3 linked regions of the Homo sapiens genome follow. The protein of the gene in region 3 purifies or fractionates together with the protein of the main gene of each other region. This does not show direct contact. Each region holds a gene or a part of one and is shown on either strand. Other genes may lie near its edges. The genes, in order: KIDINS220, URB2 and DGCR2.

What was found.
Region 1: the proteins of DGCR2 (region 3) and KIDINS220 purify together in Homo sapiens (co-immunoprecipitation; 2 studies listed by BioGRID and IntAct, with this or other methods). This does not show direct contact.
Region 2: the proteins of DGCR2 (region 3) and URB2 purify together in Homo sapiens (co-immunoprecipitation; 2 studies listed by BioGRID and IntAct, with this or other methods). This does not show direct contact.

The regions. Positions count from the first base shown.
Region 1 is NC_000002.12:8,732,866-8,736,614, forward strand, and holds part of KIDINS220 (kinase D-interacting substrate of 220 kDa), read right to left. Parts: intron 1,889-3,749; coding exon 1,790-1,888; intron 816-1,789; coding exon 579-815; intron 1-578. UniProt on the Homo sapiens protein: Promotes a prolonged MAP-kinase signaling by neurotrophins through activation of a Rap1-dependent mechanism. Provides a docking site for the CRKL-C3G complex, resulting in Rap1-dependent sustained ERK activation.
Region 2 is NC_000001.11:229,636,214-229,639,962, reverse strand, and holds part of URB2 (unhealthy ribosome biogenesis protein 2 homolog), read right to left. Parts: coding exon 1,716-3,749; intron 1-1,715. UniProt on the Homo sapiens protein: Essential for hematopietic stem cell development through the regulation of p53/TP53 pathway.
Region 3 is NC_000022.11:19,115,666-19,119,414, reverse strand, and holds part of DGCR2 (integral membrane protein DGCR2/IDD isoform 1 precursor), read left to right. Parts: intron 1-3,749. UniProt on the Homo sapiens protein: Putative adhesion receptor, that could be involved in cell-cell or cell-matrix interactions required for normal cell differentiation and migration.

The sequences.
Region 1 (3,749 bases), on a different chromosome or scaffold from region 3:
TCACTCCCGCTACTCCTCCTGCATCTCTCACTTTGCTCTGTCCCTGCCCCTACCCCTACCCCTCACCTGGCCTCCTTCTTCTAAGAATCTCCAAAGGAAGAACGCGCCTACATCTAATGCCAGACCAGAAGAAACCAATATCCGTGAAGGGTGTGCAGGCGTCCTGGAAAACCAAAGGATGGTGCTCAAAGGGACACTATGTGGCCAGTGTTCCAATGAAGATGTACTTCAACCAACAGTTACTGAATGCAACAGGAAGATCGCCTGAGAAAGGCTGAATTTGCTGACCACCCTAGCTCAAGTGGCCTAATCCCTATTGACTCTGCATGCTGTGACCCTGATGGATATCTCAGCTCTCATCAATGTCTACATGAGCTACTTTTTTGTTTGTTTCACTGACTGCCCCTCTCCACATGGATGCAGCTCCTTGAGTACAGGGAGCCCTCCATCTTGTCTCCTGTTCACTTAGGTATTCAGTAAGCATTTTCTGAATGACTGTCTAAATGCCCATATAATCTCAGTGAACTGAACGGTGTGCTTATTCTTCAATAATATGAAAAATGCCATTCAATAAATACCTGCCAACTTAGATTACTGTGACGAGGGGCACCTTCATCCAGGCCAAGCGTGTTCAGCTCTTCGAAGCTGAAGTTGAGTGTGTAGGGCGTCTGGCTGGAGAGCTCGGTGTGAGGCAGCTCGTTGTGGGAAGCGCGGCGAGCAGGCTCACCGTGCGGGGCTGGGCCACTGCTGCTCTCACTGAGGAAACGTGGGTCTTCAGGGACCACGTGGCTTTCTGCGTTTCTCATTTCTAGTACCTTAACAGAAGAAAAACATAAATATTTACACTAACAAATCATATTTTAGAAGCTTTAGAAATATTTAGAAATACCAAACATTATAAAGCTATTGCAACAGCAATGAGAAAGCATACTTCTGGTAAGTGAATTTCTAGTGAATTTGTTTTATACATCAGCTTATCTTTCATGTTCATTAATACTAAAGGAAGCAATGGTAGAAACCACCATACATATACTACACTGCAATTTGTCCATTAAATTATTACTTCTGTTTAAAACTTAACTTGAGGACAAAGAAAAATGCAGCTGGCTTGTGTCAAAACCAGAGCTGGCCAGGAGTAGGGCGGTAGGTCCAGATTTTATTCAGAACTATGGCAACAGGGGTAAGCAGTCTCACTACAGAAGGGAGTCCAACTCGGAATAAGCACGAATGAGTGGGGATCTACCACCAAGGGGCAGGGTGGGGGTCGTGGATGGAACATTACTAAGGGGAGGCAGCAGGAGTGGGGGACTCTTGGTACGCCGATGGCCAGGGTGAGCCGACATCACCTGGGGGTGGGGGGGTTAGTGAGGCGTTTGATCAAATACTGAGGGTGATCACACATGTAAACTGACTTAACAGGATTCTTGCTAAACCTGGGCAATGCAAGCCCTATAAGGATGAATGCTGAAGGTCAAGGCCTCGAAGGCTTTGAGGAGCCTGATGAGAGTTAAGGCAGGTGAAAGCATGAAGAACCGGCAGGCGGCCTCTTCCCCAAATCTCTGAGTGAAATGCCCAAAAAGGCAAAGGCTGCCAAGTGCTGCTGTGTGTATTTTCCACAACACAGGATTGCACATAAGTGTAAGAAGCAGTTTTTAAATTTAAAAAAATATGAAAAAAATACCAGTTTAGGCCAGTACTTATTGATACTGGTTTTCTACAATGTTATAAATAATTTTGAATGTTATCATAAAATAATGTTGTAAACATCACAATGTTACAAATATCTTACTGTGCTTCTGAAAAGGTGCCAGTCTCCAAAATTCATATTCATCTCTTTCTTCAGCTCATCAATGTTACACTGAGCTAACACACGGCCATTTATGTTTGCCTGAGTAAAAATTAAAACAATTATGGGTATAAAGACAGAATGTGAAATATTCTGAATTACTAGTGATTGCCAAGTATGCTTATATTTAGTTTTAAATAAGTCTCTAGAGACCAGAAAGGCTGACCAAAAAAAAGGTTATCATCCCATATAATAATACAATAAACAAGCTGAATTTGAACAACATCAGCCACTTCATATTTTCCCAAATGTCTTAGGCATTTTCTGGGACCAACCGAAGAACTAACCCTCCTATTTCCAAAACTACCTATGCTGTCATGAGCAACAACAAAACTGTTAGTTTTTGTTTTCTAATCTTAGAAAATATGAACATGAACACAAGCTGCTGGGAGGGGACAAAGACATCTGTTCTCATAAGCGTGTTGGTCACTAACAACGTTCTAAATGAAGTAGGCCTGGCAAACTTGTTTATCCGTTATATTAGATACAGATATGAAGAATGCCCACCCACTAATTTTCCAGTCTATTAAATTCACAAGGCCCGGCGCGGTGGCTCACGCATGTAATCCCAGAACTTTGGGAGGCTGAGGTGGGTGGATCACCTAAAGTCAGGAGTTCGAGACCAGCCTGGCCAACATGGTGAAATTCCATCTCTATTAAAACTACAAAAATTAGCTGGGAGTGGTGGCACATGCCTGTAGTCCCAGCTACTTGGGAGGCTGAGGCAGGAGGATCGCTTGCACCCAGGAGGCGGGAGGTTGCAGTGAGCCATGGCCACGCCACTGCACTCCAGCCTGGGTGACATAGCAGGACTCCATCTCAAAGAAAAAAAAAATCATAAAAAAGGAAGTTATTACTTTTGGTTCCCTGTAATTCTAGTTTCCCCTAAATGAAACAACAGCATTTTCTTTATTAATAATAGGTAGCTTACTGCTTTTATAAAATGTAAAACCTGACTTTATTAACTGGGGCAAATTTATGAAATAGCTATGTTTATAATCAATAGAATGTTCAGTTTCCAAGTTAATCCTGAAGAAAACAGTATACACAGCAAGTCTGTGACAGAGGTCCTGCTGCAACAATGCCGCGGAGCCCTAAGCACGGAGGAGGCCAGCGGCTCTGAGGGGCTTCAGAAAGCCGGGGTCTAGGAGCAAAGAGCTGAGTGGGGAGAAAACCACTACCCCGATGGGAACAAAATCATCACAAAGGACTCGTGTGGGAGACCCCGCTCTTTCCTGACACCAACCAGCTGCCTGAAGGAGAAAGTGGGGCTTATCCATGGAAAAGCCGGTGTTTGACTCATGCAAACAGGGACTAGCACGAGCCAGCTCTGTAAGGAAACTGACATTATCTGAAACCTTTCTAAAATTGGCTGAGATGAGTAAAATGGTGTCTACATATGCTCATAATTCTTTAAAAAACTTCTCTCAGATGTCATTCTTTCAAGTATATAAATATTAGAGGCTGGTTATTAACGTTCTACTTTATTACACAGTACTCTGATATAAAAAGTATACCTTAGTGAAATACCTACTATAAAGACTTCGTTAAAACCTTCCCCCAAATCTCAGGCATCTCTAGCCAACTTCCTGATAGCTGCTAGAATTGCAATAGGATCTTAGAAGAAAAAAAAACTATGCAAATGCATTAACCTTGCAAACCCAAACCTATGTGGTTTCATCAAATGTGACATGATCCTAAGTCCTACATGACATGAAAATGAGAATTTGGAGAAAATGAGGCAAGTGTGGCTTACTTTGATAATCACTAAATCACACTAACAAATATTACAATTAGAAAAAAATGTAACACAAAGGTTTTCGGTTCCACACTGGAAAGATGAGTTCTGTTTATCCCAATGGGAATCCCTCAGAGCTTTCTCTTTCTCATCAAGGCATTCTTT
Region 2 (3,749 bases), on a different chromosome or scaffold from region 3:
CCCTTGTCTTCATAATAGTTTTCATAATTATATTTTTAACGGCTGCATAGTAACCCATTAACCTTTCACCAGGGGGGCTGTAAAGGTCGACTCTGTGCAGGAAGACATGAGCTCTCTTGCTTCGAGGCTGTGTACGAGGTCCTAGTTTGCTGCTTGGAAGGCTGCCTTCAGACTAAAACACTTTGATGACATTGAAGGTTAGCCTTGGTCCAGTGAGCACTTGCACCTGGCAGCACCCTAATATGGTGGGGGGACAGGGGTGAACTAAGGAAGGCACAGTCCTGTCCTCAAGGAACTGTAAGAGGCTCTTTGGAAATTAAGTGATTTGGCTGGACATGGTGGCTCACGCCTGTAATCCCAGTACTTTGGGAGGCTGAGGTGGGCGGATAATGAGGTCAGGATATCGAGACCATCCTGGCTAACATGGTGAAACCCTGTCTTTACTAAAAAATACAAAAAAATTAGCCGGGCGTGGTGGCGGGTGCCAGTAGTCCCAGTTACTTGGGAGGCTGAGGCAGGAGAATGGCATGAACCCGGGAAGCGGAGCTTGCAGTGAGCTGAGATTGCACCACTGCACTCCATCCTGGTAGACAGAGTGAGACTCCATCTCAAAAAAAAAAAAAAAAGAAATTAAGTGATTTGTACTTTTTTTAATTTATTTTTTTATGAGACAGGATCTCACTGTGTCACCCAGGCTGGAGTACAATGGCAGGATCAAGACTCACTGCAGCACCGACCTCCCTGGGCTCAGGTGATCCTCCCACTTCAACCTCCTGAGTAGCTGGGACTACAGACGCATGCCACCATGCCTGGCCAATTTTTGTATTTTTTGTAGAGATGGGGTTTTGCCATGTTGCCTGGACTCAAGCAATCTGCCCCCTCAGCCTCCCAAAGTGCTGGGATTACTGGCGTGAGCTGCCACGCCTGGCTCTGATTTGTACTTTTTTAAAGTTGGCAGATTTTCATATCTTTTTAAAGTCAATTTATGGCACTGAAAGTCTGATACATAAGAACCTACTAAGGATGCAGGTATCTATGTATCTCATTGCAGCCAGGACAAGTTAAAGGCTAAAAAGCTGAAGAGGAGCAGATTTCAAAACTATAAACGTACACAGAGCAACCTCCAAAATCAGTGAGCAACTGAGGTGCAGAGCAACATACGGAGGAGGCTGCTGTTTGCACAGAAAGCAAGGAAACCGTTGTAGCAGTAATTGCTTATGTACGCCTAGAATGTAAATAGAGGGCATGAAGTCGTGGGTGCTGGGCCTAGAAGGGAGGTCTTCTCACTGTCCACATGTAGTACTTTTTTTTTTTTTTGAGACAGACTCTCGCTCTGTCGCCCAAGCTAGAGTGCAGTGGCGCGATCTTGGCTCACTGCAAGCTCTGCCTCCTGGGTTCACGCCATTCTCCTGCCTCAGCCTCCCGAGTAGCTGGGACTACAGGCGCCTGCCACCACACCCGGCTAATTATTTGTATTTTTTACTAGAGATGGGGTTTCTCCGTGTTAGCCAGGATGGTCTCGATCTCCTGGCCTTGTGATCCGCCCGCCTCGGCCTCCCAAAGTGCTGGGATTACAGGTGTAAGCCACCGCACCCAGCCGCACATGTGGTACCTTTTGAACACATCACGTGTTCACTTATTCCCAGTTCCAAAAAGGGGAGCAGTGGAAACCAGACCTCTATAACACAGAATTAGCTCAAGAGAAAATATCTTACCTGCAAGAACTCTTCTCACAGAATGAAACATGGAGGTAAACACGGAGTCCTTTTTGGGATGCAGTTCTGGGGCCAAAAAGAACAGAGTCAAAAACTGCAAGGCTGCCTGAAAAGACTGATCATGTCCCGCGAGAGCTGGCAACTCCAACAGTATCTGAGAGTAAACACCCTGGTAGAGGGCAACATGGGAGAGCAGCGTCCTGTCGCTTCCTTGGGAAATGTCGGCCCCTCCATCCCTGCAGTGCTGACCCAGGTCGGCTTCCAAGAGCGTGCTGACGGATGAGATGAGGACCGAGGGAAGGCGCCAGCCCCGGGCCCCCGGCACTGAGCAGAGCTGCAGCACAGCTCCTGTCTGCAGCACAACCTGCTGCAGCAGCTCAGACAGTGCTGCTGGGGCCTCTTGGCCCAGCTTCTGCTCTTTGAGGAAAGGTCCCAGGACATGGCACAACCTGGTTAAAGACACCAGAAGGAGCTGCCTGCCCTGGGGGTTCTGATTTTCTAATTGTTTGCTTGAAGCTGCCTCCGTGTATGGTTTGGAACTAGAGAGGAATGCGGTGATTTTTCTAAAATTGAGCACCAAGCTCAGCTTCATTTGGATGAGCATCTGCATTAGCTCCTCTAAGAACGTCCCTATCACTTGGAGGAATTCCAGCCAAGCGGGATCATCCATCTCAATAAGGAACCTACTACTAGCTCTGAACAATGAGGTCAGTACAACCTCAAAAATATCACTACCATACATGATCTTGAACACAGAGCGAGCACTTTTCCCCTTTTGCAAGTAACCAAGAAGTTGGTAGCAAGTCGTCAAGAACTTGAGAGCCAGTGAGGAGGAGCAAGAGCATCCTAGTTTGGTGACGGCCATGGACAGTAACACAAGAAAATAATGCACATGATAGGGTGGCAAGAGGCTGTCCAGCTGTAAGGCAGAAATCACTTCCAAAAGCCCCAGGATGCTTTCCAACTGCTCTCCCTCCAGCTGGATAGGGAAGTCACTCTTGACCAGGGACAGTAAGTTCTGGGCAATTTCTCCTCTAGGTTCTATACCTTCGGGTCCAGCTTTTGCAAATCTGTTTTCCCAATGACCCACAACCATGTGGTCCTTTTCAAAAAGCCAGGGAAGCTGCTGACTGACAAGACCTGAGTCACGCTGGGCACCAGAACACAGAATGCTGGAGCAACTTGTGGTTACGCACGTTAAGAAAGCAGAATGAAGGGACTGCATCTCTGGAAAGAGAGGGCTATGAAGGAAGGCTTTGGATATTTTTTCCAGTGTGATGTATGCCTCTTCATCTATTGAGACTTCCTGGGCTTTGCCCATGGGTAAAGTTCTCAGCAGGACACTGGCCAGGTATCCCACATCATCTGGACACAGATAGGATATTAAAATTGTGAGATTTGACACAATCAAGTGCCAGTGTGCTACAGGGTATGTGAGTCCACTCACCATCCCAACTTGGCCATCCCAGGAAGCCGTCGTTCTCTGATTCAAGCTTTTTCTGCCGGAACCAATAATAAAGGCAGCATCGCACCTCAAACTTTGGATGGCTCCTTCAGACCGGAAACTAGTTTGCATTAAAGTCCTTTTCATTTTCTGCAGGTACAGCTGTTCTAAGCAATATGTACCAAGAGAGCTGAACTGAGCTGTAAACTTCTCTATCTTCTTCCAATGCTGTGTTTTTACACCTGGGAGCAACGAAGGGAGGTTCGAGATCTCCAGAGCAACACCTATAAGGGGCCCAGACATAGAGTGATACTGGCTACAGTTCAAACTGAACATAGCGTCCACCTGGGCCCAAGTGTAAGAGAGCAGGAGCACAGAGTCACTGACCTTCTGCAGCCACAGCTCTGGCTCTGGGCCTGGGGTGTCCGGGAGAAGGGCCAGCAGGGGCTGCACGAGCTCCCTCATCATCCTCTCCATCATGCACTGTGTCCGTCTGACAATGGGCAGAGGCGTGCTGCTGTCCAGGCTCCTCATGTTGAACATGATGCAGTGCAGCAGCAAGCTCAGTGACAGTGATTTCAGGGCCATGT
Region 3 (3,749 bases):
TGTCATGTGCCGGACACTGTTCTAAGCACTAACATATGTTAACTCTCAAGAGGTCCCTGCTAGATGCTGTTTTTAGCCTCATTTAAAGATGGGGAAGCTGAAATCCAGAGCACTCATGAAGCTAAGGCTGAGATGAGATTTCATCGTAGGAGTCTGGCCTTCCCCCCATCATGCACCCGTGACTGGGGTCTGTGCACTCCAACTGTGTGTCTCCAGCCCAGCCACAGGAGTACCTCATATTATGCTCTGAACAGCTTCCTTAACCCCAGGTGGAGCCACAGACTGCCTCTGTCCCCTGTTAGGTCCCAGGGTCCTCTAGGTGAGGGTGCAGAATCTTTTTCCATGTGGATACTCCAGTCTGAGGGACAGAACCACTCACCCTCTGCCAAATCCCTTCTGTGTTTGGCCATGTGACCACTGATGATGTGTGTTATGATCACTGGGGGTGTGATGAGGAAGAACGGTTGGAGACTACTGCTGAGGTAACTGACAGCGAGATGGTGGGGGGATTTGGGGACCACTGATTGTGATACTGTCTCATTGGCCCTTTCTCCATCTGTGTAGAGAAGGCAGCATCGACTGCTGATTCTAAAACTGTTTTTCTTTCTAGCTTTAATTGTGAAACAAAATTATATCATGAGCCACAGCTCTATCCAGGTTGAACCCACCATACATAGCTGAGAAAAAATTGCCTTCTGAATGCTGGTGCACCCTGGTCCCTTCCTGCTGGTTGTTGGTCCTGTACAGGGCCTGTGCTCAGCTAGGCCCCTTGGTAAGGTAGAGGACTAGAAGGTCGTCTTCCTTCTATTGTTGGTACAGCTAGCTGGGAGAGGCAAGTGACTTGTCTAAGGTCACACAGCTGGTGAGCAGCAGAGCGTGGGTTCAGACCCAGGTGGAGCTGGCTGCTAGCTCAGGGTTCTTTCTCTTTTGCTTTCAGTAGGCAGCTGTGCTGAGCTGATCACATCTCAGGGAGCTGAGAAGTGAACACAGCACCTTGGCTCTGGAGTCCAGAGTTGTTTTTTTTTTTTTTTTTTTTTTTTGTTTGCGATGGAGTTTCTGTCTGTCACCCAGGCTGGAGTGCAGTTGCGGGATCTCAGCTCACTGTAACCTCCACCTCCTGGGTTCAAGTAATTCTCCTGTGTCAGCCTCCAGAGTAACTTTGATTACGGCGCACGCCACCATGCTGGGATAATTTTGTATTTTTAGTAGAGACGGGGTTTCACCATGTTGGCCATGTAGGCTGGTCTCAAACTCCTGGGCTCAAGTGATCCACCTGCTTTGGCCTCCCAAAGTTACGGGATTGCAGGTGTGAGCCACCTCTCCCCGGCTGGAGTCCAGAGTTTTCTTTCATGTGAAGTAGCACAGGGGTTTGGTGCATAGGGAGAGAGTGCATATTTTCATCACAAGGAAAAGTGACCGAGGTTCAGAAGTAGCTGGAGAGGTGAGCTTGCACCTAGCCTTGCCAAATCCTCCTGAGTTTGGAGTGCTTTCCTCTGTAGCCAGTACTGTGACACTTTGTAGAGTTTGTCCACTGGTAGATTTGGCTTTTGGGTTAACAGGTTCATTTTTTTTAGTTGGAAAGTGATGTAATATACTTTCTACCTTCACTAGCTAATGAATTTTCCTTTTTTTTCTTGACAAAAAGAAAACTTTTATTTGGAAATAATTTCAAACTCCCGGAAAAGTTGCAAGAGTAAAGTGAGTGCAGAGAACACCTGCATATCCTTTGCTGAGGCTTCCCTACTGTTGGCATTTTACCTTATTTGCCTTATCCCTCATCTTCCATGTGTATGTGCATATCTGTGTACTCACACACATTGCTTTTTTCTGAACCATTTGAGAATAAGTTGTATGCGCCATGGCCGTTTATCCTTGTACATGTTAACCATTGCAGAGAGTAGAGGCTGCTCCCACTTAACCCCACCCCATCGTTCTCACTAACACCTGCTATGTGCCAAGCCCTGTGTCACGTGGGAAGGTCTCATGGGTGCAGGAAGCCCTGTAGTTAAAGCCCAGGTTGGCCCAGGTGGAGGCAAGCTGGCATCACTGCATGTCAGGGTTATTGTTTTAGTTGGCGGTTCTGGGTTTAGGAATGAAGACTGCTGTTGTGGAAGATTTGTGCTGTGTTAGGCTGCGCCTTCGCTGCTCCACTTCCCAAGCTAGCTTGTGGGCACTTTCCCCACCCCTTCCTTCCCACTTCCCAGAGTACTGAGTGATTATATCCTCTTAGCAGCGGTGGCCGGTGATTTGTTTGTGCAGGTGTCCTTCTAGCAGTGACGGCAGGTAATCTTGTTACGCACAGATCCTCTTAGCAGTAATGGGAGGTGAGTGATCTGTGTGTGTCCTCTTAGCAGTAAGGGCAGGTGATCTAGCTGTGCACGTGTCCTCTTAGCCATGGTGGGAGGTGATCTGGTTGTGCAGGTGTCCTCTTAGCAGTGATGGGAGGTGATGGGAGGTGATCTCATTATGCATGTTTCCTCTTAGCAGTAGTGGCAGGTGATCCGGTTGTGTGCATGTCCTCTCAGCAGTGATGACAGGTGATCTAGTAGTGCATGCATCCTCTCAACACTGATGGCAGGTGATCTAGTTATTGACTCTCTCCTGCTGGACCTGAGCCTTTGACAGGCAGGGAGTTCCTCTGCCTCTCTTGGTTGTTGGCATAAGGACGACCCGATTGGCATTTAGTAGTTTCTTGACTCTAAGTGGAATGCATCAGTGACAACATTTAAGGACCCCGTAGATAGCTCTTGACTGATTAGATGTCTTTTCCTTGGTATGCTATTAGATTTTCTCTTATGTGCTGTTATGTTTGGGTGCTGAGGTTTTGATGACCGTCCTCTTTCCTTTCTTTCACTGCCAGTCTGCAGAGTGGGCTCGGTAATCCCGAGAGACCAGTTTTGGGCCAACAGTTCATTGAGCAGAGTGATGCATGGGCTTGGGTATGGTTATTATGTGATAGCTGTGTAACACCTGTATTTGTGTTTCTGACATGATTTACCAGTTGTCCTGGGAAGTTTAGTCAAAGCCAGTCCATCTCATCCTGCCATTCCAAGCTGTGTGTCCTGTCAGTGTGGACATGGCGGGCTTGGCAGGGCAAGTCTAGGTTGGAGGGTGAATAGCCTGTGGACCCAGATGCCCTGGACCTTCTGGGCATCCTCCTGGGAGATGGGGAAGCTCAGGTCTGGTTTTGCCTCAAATGAGCTGTCTGTAAAAGTAGCAGCTGGGATTAGATCAAGCCTTCTCATCCTGGCCCATGGCAGGCAGTTGGGTATGGTGGCTTAAGAGCATGGGCTCTAGAGCCACACTGCCTAGGCTCAATCTGTTCTACTGCTCACTCTTCAGTTTCCTCATTTGGAACATGGACATCGTAACAGAGCTTTATAGAGATGTTGTGAGGATTAAAATGGGTAAGTATAAAATTCTAAAAAGTGTCTGACATAAAGCAAACTCTTCATCAGGCAAAATGTTAGTGTTAATCACAGATAGAGTTCAGGAACCCTGAACTGAAATGTGAAATGTGAGGTGGTTTGTGCACAGGGCTTATTGGTCGGGAGAGAGCTCCCTCAGGAGGTGGCAGAGTACAGTGGCTCTGAGGAGTGTCTGCCACACAGAGAGTGCTCTTTGCTGTTATGATGGGATCAGAGGGACTGCGTATGACTTGCTGAGAGCCCCCGAAACAGCCATGGTGCTTTGGACAGGGCTGGGATTGTTCATACACGTTTTGCTCTTTGTCACATTCATGCTCTGTC